3 linked regions of the Homo sapiens genome follow. The protein of the gene in region 1 interacts with the protein of each later gene in a biochemical or structural test. Each region holds a gene or a part of one and is shown in the gene's direction. Other genes may lie near its edges.

Region 1 (6,910 bases):
ATTCAATTGTCTTTTAACTCTTTGCATTGGAAGCCACTTATATGCAACCATCATTTCCCCTGTGAGAGACCTCAGTTTTTAGTGTCCTTACCTCAATATATTTTAATTTCCACACAACCTCTTATTCTTCACTTAACAAATATTTATTGAGTGCCCACTATGTGCAATGCACTGTTTAGGTGCTGAGGATACTGTAAAGTTGGAGGAAGAAGTATCTCGCCTTTTCCCTAAGGCCGATTCCGCCATCTACATCTTGGATCTTTGTCCCTCTCAATTACTGAGGGATTTTGCTTGCAACCTTACTGCCTCTCTCTTCTAGCATCTTAAAAGGCCCCCTCTGGCCGGGCGCGGTGGCTCACGCCTGTAATCCCAGCACTTTGGGAGGCCGAGGCGGGTGGATCATGAGGTCAGGAGATCGAGACCATCCTGGCTAACAAGGTGAAACCCCGTCTCTACTAAAAATACAAAAAATTAGCCGGGCGCGGTGGCGGGCGCCTGTAGTCCCAGCTACTCGGGAGGCTGAGGCAGGAGAATGGCGTGAACCCAGGAAGTGGAGCTTGCAGTGAGCCGAGATTGCGCTACTGCAGTCCGCAGTCCGACCTGGGCGACAGAGCGAGACTCCGTCTCAAAAAAAAAAAAAAAAAAAAGGCCCCCTCTTTGTTGGTTCCTTCCTCTTTGCTTTAAAGTGGCTTCAGGCTTTGTCAACAACCTCTGTTTGACCCTTCTAACTAATTTAATTAAAATTGTACTTCGTTCCTTTTTATTTCCAAACCTCTTCAATCTGTGGTCTCTTGTCTCCGTTTTCTCACAATACAGTTCCTCCTCAATTCCCCATAATCTTGTTTCTATCCTCACCACTTATTGAAACCAAACAATTATTGGTCTCCAGTGAACTCCTTGACACGTCCAAAGAAAGTCTCTTTGGCCCTCATTTTCTTGTCCTATTTTCAGCATTTGATACTGCTAACCTCCCCTGCATATTCCTTCTTTATCTTTCGTTTTCATTGACTGCAAATGATTTTCAGTGCAGGAAAGTACATGGAATAACAGAACCAATATATGTACCCACCACCCAGTTCTATCAAATCTTGCAACATCACTTTTCAGATTCTGTTTTGAGAAATAAATATTAGATATATTTGATATTCTCTGTATGCCTCCCCCGAGTGTCAATCCTCTCCCTCTCTTAAATTTGGTGATCATGCCCTTTCATGTTTTATATACTATTACAGTACTACTCATCTATGTAGCCATAAGCAATAGATGATATTTTCAGACTTTATATACACAGTATACTGTACATGTTTTGCAATTTGCTTTTCACTCAACATTATATTTTTGAAATTTAGCTGTTACTACCCATAGCTCAAATTCATTCATCGAGAACACCATTATTTATTCATTCACCTGCTGACATTTACTTGGCTTCCATTTTTGAGATTACAAATAATACTGCAATGAACATTCTTTTATATGTCTCTTTGTGCATATAAAAGGTAGAGTTTTGCCAGTGTCTATATCTAGAAATAGAATTTCTAGATTGAGGGGTATTGCCTTTATTAGACATCGTCAAATTGTTCTTCATAGCAGTTCTACCAACTTAAACTCCTTCTAGCCGTAAATCAGAGTTCCACTGCTAGAACTTCAACAACACTTGGGGTTGTCTGACTTTTTAAATTTTCACAAAACCGATGGTTGTGAAATGGTATCTCGTGGTTTTACTTTTCAATTTCCCTGAATAGTAATAAAGTTAGGCATCTTTTCATGTCTTTATTGGCCATCTGGGTTTCCTTGACTATGAATTACTTACTCAGATATTTTGTCAATTTTTCTATTAGGTTTCTTTCTTATTTATAGGAGTTCTTATATATCCTGGATACCAAGTCATTCATTCATTTAATCAATATTTTTCTAGCACCTACTTGGCTCCAAGAATGGTTCTAGGCACTGAGAATGCAGCTATGATCAAAACAGACAAAATCCTTGCACTCATGGAACTCAACATTCTAGCGGGTGAAGGTAAATGACCAATAATATTGATAAATAAAACAGAAGTGGTAGATAGTGATACATAAGCAGGGAAGAGGGATAGGGAACATGTATGTGTGGTGATGGAGAAGGGGATTGTTGAATTACAATTTTCAATAAAGTGGTCTAGGAAGGCTTCAGTGAGAAAGTGACATTTGAGCAAAGACCTGAAGGAGGTGAGAGTGCATGCAGAGTGAACAGCAAGTGTAAAGGCCCTGAGGTAAGAGTGTGCCTGGCAAGTCCTAGCAACAACAAGGAGTCAGTGTGACTAAGCAAAGCTAGTTAGGGAGAGTGGTGGGAAATGGTGGGAGATGTCCGAAAGGTGATGACAGCTTGTCTTTTTTTTTTTTTTTTTTTTTTGAGACAAGGTCTTGCTCTGTCACCCAGGCTGGAGTGCAGTGGCGCCATCACAGCTCACTGTAGATGTGACCTCGCTGGCTCAAGGGGATGCTCCCACCTCAGCCTCCTGAGTAGCTGGGACTGCAAGCACTTGCCACCACATCCAGCTAATTTTTATAGTTTTTGTAGAGACAGGGTTTTGCCACGTTTCCCAGGCTGGTCTTGAACTCCTGGGCTCAAGTGATCCTACCACCTCGGCCTCCCAAAGTGCTGGGATTACAGGCATGAGCCACTGTGCAGGCCAGTTTGTCTTTTAACTTGTTTATATTGTCTTAAAGTACATACATTTTGAAATTTCATGTAGCTAAATGTCTTATTCTCATTCCATATTCCAAGCTCATACTCAATTTTTTTTTCTGAAAGTTATAAAGTTTTGCTTTTCACATTTAGATCTTTAATCCACCTGGAACTGATTTTTCTTCCATGGTTTGAGGTAGGGGTCTAATTTTTATAATTTTCCATATGGATAAGCAGTAGTCCTAGTACCACTTAGTGGATAATCCATTCTTTCCCCACTGATTTGAAATGTCCCACACGCTGCATATCAACCTTCCGTATATGTGTGGTCTGTTTGAGGGGTTTATATTGTGTTTCATTGATTGTCTATCTCCACAGCATACTTTTAATTACTACAGATTTACAGTCACTCTTGATATCTAGTGTATTATAGATTCTGGAGCAAATGAATAACACGATCGAAAAATTACTTTGGGAAAAATATTTTTATGGCTGTCAACAGAGTAAACATGTCAAAGGAAAGAGTAAACCCAACAGGATTTATTTAAAGAAAAGTGCAATAACCCAGATAGGCTATCACAAGGGCTTACAATAAAGTTATGGCAGTGTGAATGGAGAGAAAATAAGGAATCTAAAAGTAATTCCACGTAAAATATTAACAGGGTGTGTTGACTGATTGGATATAGAGATGAGGAGGGGGAAGACGATATATGGCTTTCCAGTGAAATGATAATGAGTTAGTTTTGTGACGCAGTGATGTGTTAACAATGGACTCTATTAGGTAAGAGGTCTGGGCCAGGGATATATATTTGGACATTGTCTAGTTAGAGGTGAACTGGAGGGGACGCAGAGGAGGAGCAAAGGTCTGGGCTTTGGGGAATTCTCCGATTTAGGGCGTGGAAGAAAGAAGAGGAAAGGAAATGGTAGGATAACCAACACGGGACATTATAACCTTAAGAAATATATATATATATATATATGTATTTTTTTACTGAATGATGTGGGTCGTATTGACACAACAGGTTTGAGATCTCCCATAGGTATGACTGTGTTTTGTTTCTGTGGCCTTCAAAGTCCTCAGAACAATTTTGATGTCACAGGTGGCATTTAAAACCCATTCCTTGCTGGACCTGGTAGAGACGCCCCCAGTCCGTCAGGTCTCTCGCTGCAGTTCCGCAGTTTGACCGCAGGGGACGGAATCTGCGGCGGCCTGGAAAACTGGCGGGGGCGCGAGGCGCCGCTCTCTCTTGGGTCAGATTCTCAGCTCCCAGCTCCCCGCTCCCGGCTCCCGGCGCCCGGCGCCCGGCGCGGAGCTGTTCCTCAAACGACACGCAGCCGAGGTGGGTGGGTGTGGGGACGCGGGAGCCAGTGTCGTCGGATCGGCCCGCAGTCCGCTGTCCTGCTGAGCCCGGAGGCCGCCTGGATGGAGCCGCCGCTCCCGGTCGGAGCCCAGCCGCTTGCCGTATCCGCCGGAGAGAAGGGAGAGGGGAGGCCGCGCAGGGCCGGGGGTGGGGGTCGGGGGCCCTGCGGAACACGGTGGGGCGGGGCAACCGGGTGGCCCAGAGGCCGAGCAGAGAGGGGGAGGGGGCCGGCGCGGGAGACGAAGCAGGGCGGGGCGGGGCGGGGGAGGGCGGCGGTGGGGGGGGGGTGGAAGACCCCCTTCGCCCCGCAGTGCACCACTCCTCCCCACCGCGCTTCCGAAGGAGACCCTTGACTAGCGCCCGCATACTGTCGAGGGTATGGAGATGAAGGGTCCTCTCCGGGAGCCCTGCGCCCTGACCCTAGCCCAGAGGAACGGGCAATATGAGTAAGTAACCACCTGATTCCCACAGAGGAGGGGAGCCTGCCATTACCTCCCAACCCCAAACCGCGACGGGTCACCCACTGTCCTCCTACTGAAGCCACGCGGGCAACAGGTTCAGGTCCAGGTGTGAAGTGCCAGTGCTCTCTAACCTCGGGGCTTTGTCCCCAACTTCCAAGCCTCTGGATTGTGCTTGGCAGTGTGGCTCAGTGGAAGGACTGAATGGGCGGGGAAGCAGGAAGCCTGGGTTCTTAGTTCCTGCCCCTGCAACTGACATGTGTTGTGTAACGTTGGGCAAGTCAATAAAGCTTTCTGGGCCAAAGTTAACTCTTCAGTTTAATAAAACCATTAACTGCCTTACCTTACAGCCTTTGGAATTATAACTGGGGGAAAAATAAATGCGAGAGTGGCTTCCAAAAAGTAAAAGTGCTATGGAAATGCTTCATTGTTAACGTTACAGACTTGTCTTAACCCTATTCAGCTGGTTTCTCCAGTCTCCCCGTCCCCTTATCCCACTGGGTTGAAGGCATATTCATTAATTCAGTAATGGTTTAGTGTAGGCCAGAAACTGCCTCACTTACTGACTTTACTGTTAGAAAGAAAAGGTAATGAAATGTGTAGAGATAGAAATGACAGTATTTTATCAGTGTGTCACCTTCCTCTCTGCCATAGGAGCTCCGTAAATACTGTTGACTGATTGATCAAAAGATTATTTTGATAAGCTATCACCATAGCTGCTAACCTCACTCTATTGTCACTAATATCTTATCTCAAAAATATCCATGGTGACCATTACGTATCATAGGCCCCTATCCCTGTGTGCCCAAGACACCTCACTTGGATATTCATTGGCTTCTTGACATCATATTCCTTCCCAGTTTAAAAATTGTTCACTTAAATCTTGCCATCTCCCAACATTGGCTTCTGCCTAAAACCAATTTTCTCAGTCCCCACTTTTAGATCCTCTGTATCTATGCTGTCAGATTTACACGGAAGAAATTCCCACTGGCCCAACCTGCTCTTCTCTGAGACTATTGGTGCCACTCTAACTGGATGTCAGCTAATTCTGTGAAGTAGCTCTTTCATAGGTCCTGCTTAGTCAGCTCTACTGGGAAGTTCATCAAACCCGGATTTCATCAAACCCTGGAAGACTAGTTTAATGAAACTAAACTAAATTCAGAATTTAATAAAACAAAATTCAGCAGAAAAGTGGAACACCACTAACATTTCCAAAGGCTAGAGTGGGTTACAGAGAGGTGACCCTTGGGCAAACCAGTAAAACTTGTGTGCCTTGGTTTCCTCTAATGTAAAAACAAAATCATGAAGATTGAATAGAGTAGCTACATTGTTGAGATGACCACAGCCCAGAATCTAGTCCCTCGGATTAGTAGATTTGGAACTCTGTTGAGCTAATAAGGAAGTCGTGTGTTCCAATTCTGTGTAAGTTATGGGGGTATAGTTGGGGGTATATGTGGGGGTATGGGGCTGCTATATAACTAACATTAATATATAGGTAACACTATATAACAACTATATAACTAACAACTAATATAGTTGTTGCTATATTAGCAGTTTATATATAAACTATGTAAATAGTTTTAAATATATATAAACTATAGTTTTAAATACATATAAACTATAGTTTATATATAAACTAACATATAACTAACAACTAATATAGTTGTTGCTATATAACTAACATTCAATGGCTGCTTATGTGCCAGGTACTGTTCTAAGCCCTTTTCATTAGTTAGTTCATTTAATCCACATGTGAGGGTTACTATAAGATAGTAATATCATCATCCCCCTTTTATAGATACAGAAATTGAAGCACAGACAGGTTAAGTCACTTGTTTGCAATTAGGGAGTAGAATACCTGAGATCTGATCCTATGTAACATGTCTCAGAATTACACTGAGAAGTTTCTCTTGAAAGCATTTGCTGGAGACACCTAATACCATAATACCATCTGTAATCCTCATATTCTTGTCTCTCTGGTGTCTTTTCTGACTCGAGTGTCCAGAACTTTTTACTTTTGGCTTTTTTATCCTAGAACTTGAAGCCTGACTTAAATCTTTAGGTCTGTGGTTCCTACTGTCAACCATAGGAAATTTGCTTGACCAAAATTACAATTAAAAATCAGGGTTTTTTTGGAAACAGGGAATCAAACACTTAAGATTCATATTTTTCAAGGATAATAGATTATGACAAAACCTGTTTGACCTTTAACCTTCCTTGAACAAATCAAAGTGTTTCCTAGGGATAAGGCAGAGTTGGCATTCAGGATTTGTCACTCTTTTCTGTTTGACAACTACCAAATTCTGAATTCCATTGTTTTGCTGTATACCAATTATTTCTAATCTTTATATTCTGAAATGAATAATTACACTCAGAATTTTTATGCTTATTCTTAGCCCTACTCTTTTATTGTAATTTAGTGGGTAA
Region 2 (7,027 bases), on another chromosome or scaffold:
CTGTTAGAATTCCACAATTCAGCTTTCAAAGACTGTAATCTATGGCAAAGCCTTGTTTCTTCTTAATAGCATTTACCACATTTACAATTATCTTATTTTTTATGTGTTTGTTTTTATTTCCCACAGAAGAATGCAACTCCCATGAAGATAAAAACTATTCTTTTTTGTTCAGTGTGTCCCCATTGCCTAGCGTAGAGCCAGGCTCATAGTAGCTGTTCAGACATGTTGGGTAAATGAATGATGGCTGAATCTAGTAGTAACGAAAGCTAGTAGCCTATGTTACACTCTTTGACATGGTTACGCAATTGATAGTTTAACAATAACACTTAAAACTTACATCATTTGATTGTATACAGGAATATATCAGATACTTAAGGGGGTAGAGAAACCAATCGTTTAGAGGCCCAACCATTTCATTCAAAAAATAGGACTGACCTGAATTTTGTACTTTTTTTTGAGTTGAGCAAAATTCGTCTTCCTTTATTAAAGTTGTTAAATTATTTGCTATTAATGTAACGCATGAAAAGTATTCAAATTATACCAATGATGTGCTCATGGAACTGATTTGAAATTAGGTTTTATTTGGCTTATCAAAAATTTAAGATACTAGGCTGGGTGCGGTGGTTCATGCCTGTAATCCCAGCACTTTGGGAGGCTGAGATAGGTGAATCATCTGAGGTCAGCAGTTCAAGACCAGCCTGGCTAACATGGTGGAGTCCCCGGCTCCCCCCCACCCCATGGCCCGGTCTCTACAAAAATACAAAAATTATCCAGGTATGATGGCGGGTGGGAGCCTGTAATCCCAGCTACTCAGGAGGCTGAGGCAGGAGAATCGCTTGAACCTGAGAGGCGGAGGGTGCAGTGAGCTGAGATCATGCCATTGCACTGCAGCCTGGGTGACAGAGTGAGACTCTGTCTCAAGAAAAAAAAAAAAAAAAAAAAAAAAAAAAATATATATATATATATATATATATATATATATGTATGTATATTTAAGATACTACGCTCTATAGTGAAAATGAATTGTGTCAGTACATGAAGCAGATTGAGTTAATGACATCAATCTTAACCTTAGATAAATTCTTACGGTTTAATAAAGGAATGTTTGGCTGGGCGTGGTGGCTCACGCCTGTAATCCCAGCACTTTAGGAGTCCGAGGCAGGCAAATCACCTGAGGTCAGGAGTTCAAGACCAGCCTGGCCAACATGGCAAAATCCCATCTCTACTAAAAATCCAAAAACTAGCTGGGCGTGGTGGCGTGTGCCTGTAATCCCAGCTACTCAGGAGGCTGAGGCAGGAAAACTGCAACCCAGGAGGTGGAGGTTGCAGTGAACTGAGATTGCCCCACTGCACTCCAGCCTGGGCCTCAGAGCGAGACTTTGTCTCTAAATAAATAAATAAAGGAATGTTGAAATACACAATTGGAAGTTTCCTTGAGGAGTCTGTTTTGTTACTACCTCTGGCTATTGTCTTGAGATGCAGAGGCAGTTTTAGTAATGTCACTCAGTGGTTTACAGTAGAAGATTTCACTATATATACATGTTACCAATTATAAATTAGGAGATGTAATGGCAGAGAGAAGCGCATACTCAGCCTACTACTGTTTTTTTCACTTTATATTGCCTTTTCTTTTTTTCCATCAATGCTGATCAAATTGCAATATGTTAGATAAGGAAAAAATGTCTTATTGTCAGAGACTAGCAGTACTGACCAGTTGTTTTTCTTTTGAGACGGGGTCTACCTCTGTCACTCAGGCTGGAGTGCAGTGGTGTGATCTCAGCTCACTGCACCCTCCACCTCCCAGGCTCAAGTGATCCTCCCACCTCAGCCTCCCAAGTAGCTGGGACAACAGGCACGCACCACCACGCCTGGCTAATTTTTGTATTTTTTTGTAGAGATGGGATTTTACCATGTTGCCCAGGCTGGTCTCAAAGTTTTGAGCTGGCGAGATCCTCCGGCCTCAGCCTCCCAAAGTGCTGGGATTACAGGTGTGAGCCACCACGCCTGGCCAGTACTGAACATTTTATATTGGCTAGATCAGTGGTTTTTAAACTTTTTTTCCCCAAGACCCCTTTCTGCTCTTACAAATTTTTGAGGATCCTGAAGAGCTCTGTTAATGTAGTTGTTATTGTTGTTCTTCTTCCTCCTCCTCCTCTTCTTTCTCCTCCTCCTCTTCTTCCTCCTCCTCTTCCTTCTCCTCCTCCTCTTGTTCTTCTTCCTCCTCCTCCTCTTCTTTCTCTTCCTTCCCCCTTCTCCCTTCCTTCCCCCTTTCCACCTCCCCCTTCCTTTCCTTTTCTCCCTTCCTTCCTCCTTTCCTCTTCCCATTTCCTTCCCCCTTCTTGGATGCAGTGACTGTTCACAGGGGCTATCATGGCCAACTGCAGCCTTGTCTCAAGCTCTCCTCCTGCCTCAGCCTCCCTAGTAGCTGGGACTATAGGCACATGCCACTGTGCCTGACTTTTGTTTATGTAGTTTATGTCAACATTTAGGCCGGGTGCGGTGGCTCACGCCTATAATCCCAGCACTTTGGGAGGCCGAAGTGGGTGGATCACCTGAGGTCAGGGGTTCGAGACCAGCCTGGGCAACATGGCGAAACCCCGTTTCTACTAAAAATACAAAATTAGCCGGGCATGGTGGTGCGTGCCTGTAGTCCCAGCTCTTCGGGAGGCTGAGGCAGGAGCATTGCTTGAACTCGGGAGGTGGAGGTTGCAGTGAGCCAAGATCGTGCCACTGCGCTCCAGCCTGGGCAACAGAGTGAGGCTCCATCTCAAAATAAATGAATAAATATATCAACATTTACTGTATTGAAAAAGAAAATTTCAAAATATTTAATATGTTAAAAAATAATAGGGCCGAGCGTGGTGGCTCATGCTTGTAATCCCAGCATTTTGAGAGGCCGAGGTGGGCGGATCACTTGAGGCCAGAAGTTTGAGACCAACCTGGCCAATATGGTGAAACCCCGTCTCTACTAAAAATACAAAGAAATTAGCCTGGCATGGTGGTGGACGGTCCCAGTGGTAGTGCCAGCTACTCAGGAGGCTGAGGCAGGAGAGTCCCTTGAACCCGGGAGGTGGAGGTTGCAGTGAGCCAAGATCACGCCATTGCACTCCAGCCTGGGCAACGAGCAAAACTCCATCTCAAAAAAATAATAATAATAATAATAAACCCATTGCATGTTAATACCCTTTTTTTTTTTGACTGCATCCCTCTGTTGCCCAGGATGGAGTGAGTGCCTCCCGGGTTCGCGATTCTCATGCCTCAGCCTCCTGAATAGCTGGGACCACAGGTACATGCCGCCATGCCTGGCTAATTTTTTGACTTTTTAGTAGAGACAGGGTTTTGCTATATTGGCCAGGCTGGTCTCAAACTCCTGGCCTCAAGTGACCTGCTTGCCTTGGTCTCCCAAAGTGCTGGGATTACAGGCATGAGCCACTGTGCCCAGCCTTCATGTTAACATCATTTCTGAAATGAAAAAGAACTATTTTCCAAACAGATATTTAGTGAGAGTGACATTGTTTTACATATTTGCAAATCTCTTTAATGTCTGACTTAATAGAGGACAATTGGATTTGCATAGCTGCTTATGCATTCAATCCTGTAATATTACACATCATATAGGCACGGGGAAACTCCACAATACATTTCAAGAGAGTAAGAGTGAAAAATTCAAATAACATCTTAATCTTATGAAAATGGTTTTGACATCCAGGAGTTTGTGGACCTCCCCAAAGGTCTTGGGAGATCCTAAGGGGTCAGTAGACCACTCTTTGTAAACTGCTGGGTTAGGTAATATCAAGTCAATTGTATCTCCTGTTATAATGTTGCCAGTTTTTCATATCTTGTTCTGAAGCCTTAAAACTGCGTGGTACATACAGTTAATGATTTAGAGCACTAGAGGACTGGTAGAGATGGAGAGTAAGAGTCTAGGTTTCATGTTTTAGCAGTGGCTACTGACCTTTGGCAGATTACTCAACATGTCTTTATGCCCCATTTTTCCTTATCTATAACATAAAGATAATAGACCTATCATAGAGTTATTGTGACATTTAAACTAGTCAAATAATGCAAAACATTTAGAAGAGTGCTGGGCACATGAGAAGTGCTCAGAAAGTGTTTTAATTTAACAAATCTTTATTGAAAATTGCTACAGTGTCAGGTGGTTTGGTAGTGCTTACTTTTAAGGAATTTACGTTTTATCAGGGAAGAAATACACAATACTTAATACAATATAGCATGATGAGTGCCACTGCTTTTAAAAGTAGAGCTAAGGCTGGGCGTGGTGGCTCACGCCTGTAATCCCAGCACTTTGGGAGGCCTAGGTGGGCAGATCACTTGAGGTCTGGAGTTTTTTTGTTTTTTTGTTTTTTTTTCAGACGGAATCTCGCTCAGTCACCGAGGCTGGAGTGCAGTGGCGCAATCTCGGCTCACTGCAAGCTCTGCCTCCCGGGTTCATGCCATTCTCCTGCCTCAGCCTCCGGAGTAGCTGGGACTACAGGCGCCCGCCACCATGCCCGGCTAATTTTTTGTACTTTTAGTAGAGACGGGGTTTCACCGTGTTAGCCAGGATGGTCTCGATCTCCTGACCTCGTGATCTGCCTGCCTCGGCCTCCCAAAGTGCTGGGATTACAGGCATGAGCCACTGTGCCCGGCGAGGTCTGGAGTTGGAGACTAGCCTGGCCAACATGGTGAAACCCTGTCTCTACTAAAATACAAAAAATTAGCTGGGCATGATGGCGTGCATCTGTAATCCCATCTCAGGAGGCTGAGGCAGGAGAGTCACTTGAGCCCGGGAGGCAGAGGTTGCAGTGAGTGGCCATGTTGGCCAGGTTAGTCTTGAACTCCTTGCTGTCTCACCCAGGCTACAGTACAGGGGTGCCATTATAGCTCACTGCAGCCACGAGCTCCTGGGCTCAAGTGATCCTCCCACCTCAGCCTCTGGAGCTGTTGGGATTAGAGGCATTCGCCATTGCGCTCGGCTGATTAAAAAAAATTTTTTTAGCAAACGAGGTCTTGCTGTGTTGCCAGGCTGCTTTCCAACTCCTGGCCTCAAGTGATTCCCGCCTCAAGCTCCTGACTCTGGAATTACAGGCATGCACCACCTCACCTGGCTTGGACTTTTTATTAGACTTCCTGATTTTATTTCATCTGGTCTCTTTCATTTCCTTAAGCTTCTGTTTTAATTCTCATAAGATTTTTCTCAACTTTCTTCCATTTTTTTATTATTTTTTTCTGCTATCATTTTAATTTTTTTTTTCTTTTTTTTGAGCTGGAGTCTTACTCTGTCACCCAGGCTTGAGTGCAGTGGTGCAATCTCAGCTCACCGCAACCTGTGCCTTCCAGGCTCAAGTGATCCTCCCACCTCGGCCTCTTGAGTAGCTGGAACCACAAGCATGCGCCACCAAGGCCGGCTATTTTTTGTATTTTTGGTAGAGATGGCGTTTTGCCATGTTGCCCAGGCTCATCTCGAATTCCTGAGCTCATGCGATCTGCCTGGCCTCGGTCTCCCAGAGTGCTAGGATTACAGGCATGAGCCACCGTGCCAGTTCTTATCATTTTAATTTCAAAGAGTGTTTTTGTTCATCTTCTGAATGTTCCTTTCTGTAGCATCTGTGTTTTTGTTTTTTTGAGACAGAATCTTGCCCTGTCACCCCGGCTGGAGTGCAATGGTGCAATCTTGGCTTACTCCAACCTCTACCTCCCGGGTTCAAACGATTCTCATACCTCAGTCTCCTGAGTAGCTGAGATTACAGGCATCTGCCACCATACCTGGCTAATTTTTGTATTTTTAGTAGAGACGTGATTTCACTGTTTGTCAGACTGGTCTCGAACTCTTGACCTTCAGTGATCTGCCCCCTTGGCCTCCCAAAGTGCTGGGATTACAGGTGGGAGTCACCACACCCAGCCTTCTGTAGCATCTTTTTAATTCCCAATTTTTACCTTTTCTTGTCATTTTGAAGATGTTAATAAGATACATGACTTTTTTCTTCCTGCATATTTAGTTTTTGTAAATTGTTTTTCATCTCTGCTTGTTTTAGTTTCTCTATTTCCTGTTTGATGTGGTCCTCAAAAAACTAGTGTTTCTTGGCTATTTGCTTCTATTTAAGAGGTGAGCACTGAGAGTTGTGTTTTTGTTTTTGTTTTTTATGCTCTTGTGTGGGTTTGTGGGTCTTTACTGCAGAATGATCTTGCTGAGTTCCTTTTTGGGAGTCTCTGATGTTAGGTCTTTAAGTCTTTTTGCTGGTCAGATTCCCTGAAGAAGAATTACTCAGTGCACTGCTGGAGAGAATCTTGGTTGTCAGTGTTCTTGGAGGTGAATGGAGAGAGGGTTTGAAGTCATAACATACAGTAAATGCATTTAGTCTCCTTGCTTTTAATATTGTTTGTACTCTATCCCTCAGCTGTACCTTGTAATCCCTAGTACAGAAACCCCGTTTTTCTTTCTCAGCAGCATTATCTTCTAATTTTCAGCTGTGTTGAACAGAAGAGGGAATAGAAGAGAGTGTTAATCTACTTGTTAAATAGACTTTCATCCCTTCCTTCTGTTTTTAGCTCCATCTTTACCTTTATTTCTAGATGTACTTGGCCCAGACAATTCCTAAGTCAATGGGGGTTCTGTGGTCCAAATCAGCTTTCTCAGCTTTCCCCATTGTCGGTTTAAAATTGATCATTATTGAGTCTTTTAGGTCAATTACTACTTTTCCATTTGCTTTCTACTTTCTAACTTGGATGATTCAGATTTTCCGAGAACCAACACTTAATACTTGCTTAGGGTTGGTTAGTTGGTTTGTTTTTTGAGACGGGGTCTTTCTGTGTTGCCCAGGCTGGAGTGCAGTCCATTCACAGGCATGATTATAGCGTACTACAGCCCGGAACTCCTGGCTCAAGTGATCCTCCTGCCTCAGCCTCCTGAGTAGCTGGGACTATAGAGTCAGGCCAGTGAGCCTGACTCTTTTCTTTTTTAAAAGTACACTTTGGCCGGGGGGCATGGTGACTCACACCTGTAATCCCAGCACTTTGGGACACTAAG
Region 3 (7,027 bases), on another chromosome or scaffold:
AATCCGCCATAACATCCCCAGCAGTGCTGGGTGCAGAATCAACTTTTAATAATCTCCGGGAATGTGTGCACTCTCCTGTCTCTGGGCCTCTGCTCAGGCTGTCCCATCCCAGAGTCTGACCTGCATTTGCCTAGCCTTCATGGCCACACTTAAGGTGACCACCTCTGGGCATCTTCCTGGGGTCTATTGAACAGAACACATCACTTCCTGCCCCTCTGCTCCTGAAGCACTTTATGTCGCAGTGTTGTGGATTAGAGTGCCCCTGGATGAGCCCTGTTTGTCTGTGTTCTAAAGCACAGGTGCCAGAAGGCAGAACCTGTGTTTTCTCTGGCCCCTGGGAGAGGGACTGGCATGCAGCAGCTGCTGGAGAATAGGAACTGCATCTTTTTTATCTTTGGATCCACCACAGCATTTTCACATTGAAAAGAGGTCAGTAGGTTTTTTTAGGGTGGTATGGCCGTAGACCCCATCCAAGTACTAGCCAGGCCTGACCCTGCCTAGCTTCCAAGATCAGATGAAATCAGGTGCGTTCAGGTGAGTTTTGTTTTGTTTTGTTTTGTTTTGTTTTGTTTTGTTTTGTTTTGTTTGAGACGGAGTCTTGCTCTGTCACCCAGGCTGGAGTGCAGTGGTGTAATCTCGGCTCACTGCAAGCTCTGCTTCCTGGGTTCACGCCATTCTCCTGCCTCAGCCTCCCGAGGAGATTTTTTTAATTGTTCATTTAAATAGAGTTCATGCCCTAAAACCTTTGCGAGAACATCCTTTTACAGATGAAAGTCCAGATATGCCATCCTGTATTGTAGCCATGGTCGGTATAACCATGCTCGTTTCCAAACTGTCACAGCACATTGCATATTTTCTCTGATTTGTGAAAGATAATATGTAAAAAGTTTCACAAAAGCATGTGTGCACAAACATACTAACAGAGGTTTGGTGTTTTTTAATATTGAGTCATGTAATGGGGAAAAAAGTTGAAATCAGCTGTAGCTCTGAAAGCTGAAATGTGTACTGCCATATTTGTCATGGTTTTCCCTGCTGTTCTGGAATTCTTCTGTGGGAGCAGGAACACTATTTTATATATGCATATCTTCTCTTCATGAATGCCAGAGACTGGGTTTTAAACTTTAAAAAGTCTCACTCATACTAGGTGTCCATTCTTGCTGAGTGATTGAATTATTATTCTACAAGAAGATAAAGGAGCTGTTGCCGCACAAGCTGTCTGGTCTTTTGGGTGATTTGTATTTTACAAACAAACATTCATTTCCTGTCTACATTTGACCTCTTTTCCAGGGAGGTTCCCCTGAAGGATGCTAAGGAATACGCTGAATCCATAGGTGCCATCGTGGTTGAGACAAGTGCAAAAAATGCTATTAATATCGAAGAGCTCTTTCAAGGAATCAGTAAGTACCTGAAATTGGGTTTTCAGCCCAACTTGCATTTTTATGCTTCTGGGAGTCAAAGGATAACATTTTAGAACTCTGAAGTGAACTTTTCCTCTGTGTGAATTTATCGGATGCCATGGATACAAAATCTACAGCTATGCAGTTGTTAATACCCACTTCTATTATCCTCTCGATTCTAGATTTCCATGATTCTGTACTGGAACCTGTTCACTCTGAGTTCTGTAAATTAAAATGAAGTAATCCTGTTGCAAAAATAAAATTTATTTTAATTGAAAATTATGCATTCTGTAGCATTTTATGTTAGGAGGAGAGAGAAAATAGACAAGGTATAGAACTCAAGGTCACCCATTAGATGGGATGACTCTAGGTAAACTGAGGGAACCTTCCAGTAACTTTTTTTGCCTGATCATCTCCTACAAAAAGTAATGTCTCCATCCTGTTTGACCTGAAATTGGGAATTGGATACAGGGTTGGCGTGTACAGGTACCCCATGTGTCTGGTGAGCTAATTAGGGAGGGTGACAGCCTCCTTCCTGGTCCCAGTGCTGGGTCCCGTTATGCTCACTGTATGCCGGCTCCCCGGGAATAACCTTATCAACCAGAGCTGGTTCCCAGCTAATGGCTCTGCCAACACATCTATCTGCAGCTGTGAGGCTTCCAGCTCAACAGATTTAACCTTCATAAGTTCTCTGGTTGTGTCATTCTGTTCCGGATTCTGCCAGAGAAGTCCCTGCTGACAGCCATCTGGGAAAACTGCTCTGAGACACCCTCAGGAAAGTTCGACCGGAGCATTATCAGGGACGTTGGGAGAAGTACAGGTGTTTGATGAAATACTGGCCCTGAAGTTCCTGGAATAGCCACCTTAGGAGGAGTTGAACCCCAAAACAGTAATTGTCCTCAAATATCTTAGCTCCAGACAACTCCAGAAGGGAAACTGATGGTTTGATCTCTTTCCTGCCTGAGATCGTTTTTGGCAGAGCTCTCAAAGTCAGAGAAGCCGTGGCTTCCCAGAACAGTTTTGATTTCTGTTTAACTGGTTTGAGTGCATTACTTTAGACTCCAAGAACCCACAGGAGGGAATCTTTTGTTTATGTTGGCTTGATGGAGAATTCATTGGAGATGGGGAATTCTGACCTGTCTTACCTACACTATGCAGAGATATGCAAAAGAAATGTGCAAAAGAATGGCTTGGAGCCTCCCCTCCCCAGCTGCTGGCCCTTTCCTTCACTGGGGTCTTCACTCTCTTCCCTTCTTTCCACCTTCCCTTTCTTTCCTCCTTTGATTTCTTACTCTCAACAGAATGGTTTCAGGCTCCTTGCCCTGAATGGCTGAACTCTAGCAGGCTGGGGCTGGAATTTCATGTGGGAAACCCCATGTCCCCACATTCCTCTCCCTTCTCCATCATGGTCAGTGGGTGCAGATGCTCTCTGGTGTTGTGTCACTCTGGGTGACATCTAAGTTTGGGCTCGAACTCATTACATTAGCCTCACATTTCCTCAGATTAAACTCATTCTCTTCTGGTGGCGTTAGGCTCTTCTGCTATGCTCAGCTATGAAACATTTTGTTTTTACAGGTGGTTTTAATGAATGAAGCTAGATAGCTCCTGAGGACGATTGCCTTAGCACCTTCCATCCTTACAGCCCCGCGTCTTCCGCAGAGCCCCCTCCTCCTCCTTAGCTCCCTGGCCTTGGAAGACCCCCAGCACAGATATCAGTGGTCAGCCAGGGGAGCCTGGTGCCTTGTATGACCTGAACTTGAGCTTGAGATCTCTGCACCAGCTGGGAAGCTTTCTGAAGTTTATGAAAGTCATTGTTAAAATTTAAAAATATCAAATAAGGACCTGAAAGAGAAGAAGCCTGAGTAGGAAGTACTGTACTAATATCTTTTTTCTTTTTTTTTCTGAGACAGAGTCTTTGTTGCTCAGGCTGGAGTGCAGTAGTGCAATCATAGCTCGCTGCAGCCTCCACCTCCTGGGCTCAAGCAATCCTCCGACCTCAGCCACCTGGGTAGCTGGGACTATAGGTGTGCACCACCACACTCAGCTAAATTTTTGGATTTTTAGTAGAATCAAGGTCTCGCCATGTTGCCTAGGCTGGTCTCAATCTCCTGAGCTCAAGCAATCTTCCCCCATCGGCCTCCCAAAGTGCCAGGATTACAGGTGTGAGCCACCACACATGGCTTGTAGTAATAACTTAAAAGACATTTATCCAGTATAAATCCCTTCCTGTGTGTGACAGGGACTTTGAACAGGTTAATTCCTCAGATCTTGGTGGTCTACTTTATGAAAAAACAAGTGCTTTGCTCAAACATGGGTAATTATGGTTTCAAAGTAATTAATTCCTATATAAGCCATCAAATACCCATATCACCTCATCTTTCATGTCACATAAACAATTGTTTGTTTCTGTTTTATTATACTTTGGTTGTAACTGCCTTGACAAAGAAAGCTTGTAAATACACAGCCATGGCAAAACCTCAGTCTGTCCATCTGTCTGGCTATCCATCTGTCTGTCTATCCATCTTTCCCTCCATCTGTCTGTCCATCTGTCCACTTGGCTGTCTATCTGTCCATCTGCCTGTCTGTCTCTGTCTGTCCTTCTGTCCATCTGTGTGTATATCCATCTTTCTAGCTGTCCATCTGTCTATCCATCTGTCCGTCTATCTATCTATTCATCTGTACATCTGTCTGTCTAGTCATCTGTCTATCTAGCCATCCGTCTGTCTGTCCATCTGTCCATCTGTCCGCCTGTCTATCTGCATGTGTAAGCACTGGATCTTTTGCCTCTTTTCTCCTTCATGTGAATTTCTTCAGAATGGAGTTCTGTAGCCTAATTGCAGGTTAATTTAAAACACAATTCCAAGTACACCTAAATATACTGCAGCAGACTTTTCATTTATTTTTCTTTTCCCTGTTCCTACTTACATTACATGTGCTCCTCCCTGAGCTTAAAATAGAACTACATATTGCTGACACCTAGGCTCCCCAAAGCAATGTTCCACAGTCGACTATGCCTGGAGAAAAAATGCAATAAAAAGTTAAGGAGCTGTGAAAATAAAAGCCCTTTAAAAAGGTGTGTTTAAACAAAATGAATTCACATTGACTCGGATGAAGAGATGAATGTTTCTCTTTTACAGTCCCATAGTGTTCATAAACCAGAAATGGGACAACTGTGTTTTCTGAACATTGGCAAATACAGTGTCTAACTGGAGACTGCTTACAAAAATATGTTATCTTTTTAAAGACTGAAGCTACCCTGTAAAGGATTTAGGTGCTGCTCTGTTTGGGGTGGTCTGTGCAGTTTGTCCTCCTCATATAATATATTGTCGTCTGATTGGTATTCCTCCAGGCACCCTTTTCTAAATCACATTTTTAGACCTACTTTGTCTGCCTGCATGTGGCTAATTCTCTTCCATGCATTTCTACCCAGGGTTTGTTTATTTTTTTTTCCTTGGGTTCTTACACCCAAGGAAGAAAAGTAAAAACTTGAGGTTACTTTTGGTTTGTTCTGCCATTTTGACACTTAAACATATTTTATCTTTAATTGATTCTCCAAGCGTTTAGGTATGTGCCTGTTCTTCTAGGGAGATTGCAAGTTCTTTGGGAGCTTGTCTTTTGTATTACCCATGAAGCTGAGACTAATAAATGGAATGGTGCTGAATTCGGGGCTTTGAATTTGGATCTCCGTCCTCATCTCATGATATAAAGTGAAATGTAATCACTTTTCTCTGGGAATTTAAGGTTGAAGAACAGCAAATTAGACAAGCCTACTTACTCTTGATTCGTTTATTCACAAATATATACTGTACTCTTTTATGGGTAGGTGCCATGCTAGACCCTGGGGACAGCACGGTGACAAGGCGCAGTGACAGTGGAGTCGGGGAGACAGCTGTGGGCACAGTCAGATCGGTGTCTGGTGACTCTTGGTAATTGGTGCTGCGCGGCGAAGGAGTGGACTGTGAGAGGTTACTATGGGGCGAGGGAGTGGCTTTAGATTGGGTGAGGAAGGCCTCCCCGGGGAAATGATTTTAAGCTGGACCTGAAAAACGAGAAAAGGCCAGTGGGCAAAGAGCTATCAGGCAGAGCAAACCGCAGGAGCCAAGTCCCAAGGCAGGAAATGTCGTGGTGCTTTTAAGGAAGAGCAAGGAGTGCTGTGGGAAGTTGTGGTTAGAGACTCAGCAGGGCCTTGCCATGGGAGTAAGGGTGATACTCTGAAACAATTGGAAGCCCCTCAAGCTTTTAAAGCAGGAGTGCAGAGTGTCCAATTTACATTTACAAAAAAAGATCACACTTAAAAGGAGGAAAGTCTCCGCATGTCTCAATCAGTTGGCATGCGATTGTAATAATCCAGGAGAGAAGTGGCTTGGACGAGGGTGGAGGAAGTGGAGCTGGATTTCAGAAATCTTCCAGAAGAACCAATAACACTGGAAGGAGATGGGGAATGAGGAAGACAGCGTTACCAAGAGTCATCCCCAAGTTCTGTTTGCCGGAATGAGGAGGATTGGCATAGGAACAAGTGATCTGGGCTGGATTTGGTTATGAGCCTAGCATATAGGATTCTGGATTGTGGTGAACCCAAGTTTTGGTTTGTAGATTATTATTATTTTTTTATTTTTAGAGATGAGGTCTCGCTGTATTGTCCAGGCTGGTCTTGAACTCCTGGGCTCAAGTGGTCCTCCCGCCTTGGCTTCCCAAAGTGCTGGGATTACAGGTATGTGCCACCATGGCCAGCTGGTTTGTGGATTTTAATTACTTAACTCGAATATCTCTTTAAAAGTATTTTAACTTTTCCTGAGGGCAAAGAGAGGTGGAGCTGCAGGCTCAGCAGAAAAATGTCTGGATTGGGGTGGAACCCAGCAAAATAGCTATGCATTTTGCTCCAGTTAATTTAAGTGTTGACTGTGGCAGAGAAAGCAGGACTTTCTCCTGAAAATTACACTTGGAGACACTAGAGACATTAGACCAGGTTTTATATTTGTTGTTAGTTTGAGAGCAAGGTGAGAAACATTTGTTTTATTAAGGTGAATATATGGGCATGGCGGTGTGCACCTGTAGTCCCAGCTACTCTGGAGACTGAGGCAGGAGGATCACTTGGGCCCAGGAGTTTGAGGCTGCAGTGAGCTATGACTGTGCCACCGCCCTGCAGCCTGGGCAACAGAACGAGATCCTATCTCTAAAATAAATAAATAAATAAATAAATAAGGTAAATATATTTAGAGGTACAAGCATATTGGCTTGGAAAATTGGAATGGGGTGTTAATATGAAAGACAACAAGTTAAGACTTGTGGGTAGTGATCATGTCTTGTTCTGGAAACATTTGTTCACAGAGTGTTGTGCTCTAGGCACCTTTAGTTAGTAGCAGGTTAAAGTAATTTTAAAGCAAAGCAAAAGGTTTGCAGATTTTATAATAGTCAGCAAGCTGTCAGGTGAAGGTAAGTTTAGCAGTTAAGGAACAAGGAAAGGACAAAGACAAAGTTTGTCCACTTTCTCACCCCAAAAAAAGTTAATTTACCAAATGCAATCCACTTAAGAAAGTGGACAGACTTTCTTACACCAAGAAAGTTAATTTAGTGAATGTAAAATAATGTCATTTCGGCATATGGGCAAGTTGGGTCTCAAAAGGCATGTC

What was found. The genes of interacting proteins can lie anywhere in the genome.
Region 2: the proteins of OCRL (region 1) and RAB6A form a complex in vitro, tested with the Homo sapiens proteins (2 studies listed by BioGRID and IntAct, with this or other methods).
Region 3: the proteins of OCRL (region 1) and RAB31 form a complex in vitro, tested with the Homo sapiens proteins (2 studies listed by BioGRID and IntAct, with this or other methods).

What each region holds. Positions count from the first base shown.
Region 1 is NC_000023.11:129,536,353-129,543,262, forward strand, and holds the start of OCRL (inositol polyphosphate 5-phosphatase OCRL), read left to right. Parts: upstream 1-3,906; 5' UTR 3,907-4,087; coding exon 4,088-4,126; intron 4,127-4,388; coding exon of another isoform or gene 4,389-4,391; coding exon 4,392-4,471; intron 4,472-6,910. UniProt on the Homo sapiens protein: Catalyzes the hydrolysis of the 5-position phosphate of phosphatidylinositol 4,5-bisphosphate (PtdIns(4,5)P2) and phosphatidylinositol-3,4,5-bisphosphate (PtdIns(3,4,5)P3), with the greatest catalytic activity towards PtdIns(4,5)P2.
Region 2 is NC_000011.10:73,751,054-73,758,080, reverse strand, and holds part of RAB6A (ras-related protein Rab-6A), read left to right. Parts: intron 1-7,027. UniProt on the Homo sapiens protein: The small GTPases Rab are key regulators of intracellular membrane trafficking, from the formation of transport vesicles to their fusion with membranes.
Region 3 is NC_000018.10:9,844,295-9,851,321, forward strand, and holds part of RAB31 (ras-related protein Rab-31), read left to right. Parts: intron 1-1,287; coding exon 1,288-1,397; intron 1,398-7,027. UniProt on the Homo sapiens protein: The small GTPases Rab are key regulators of intracellular membrane trafficking, from the formation of transport vesicles to their fusion with membranes.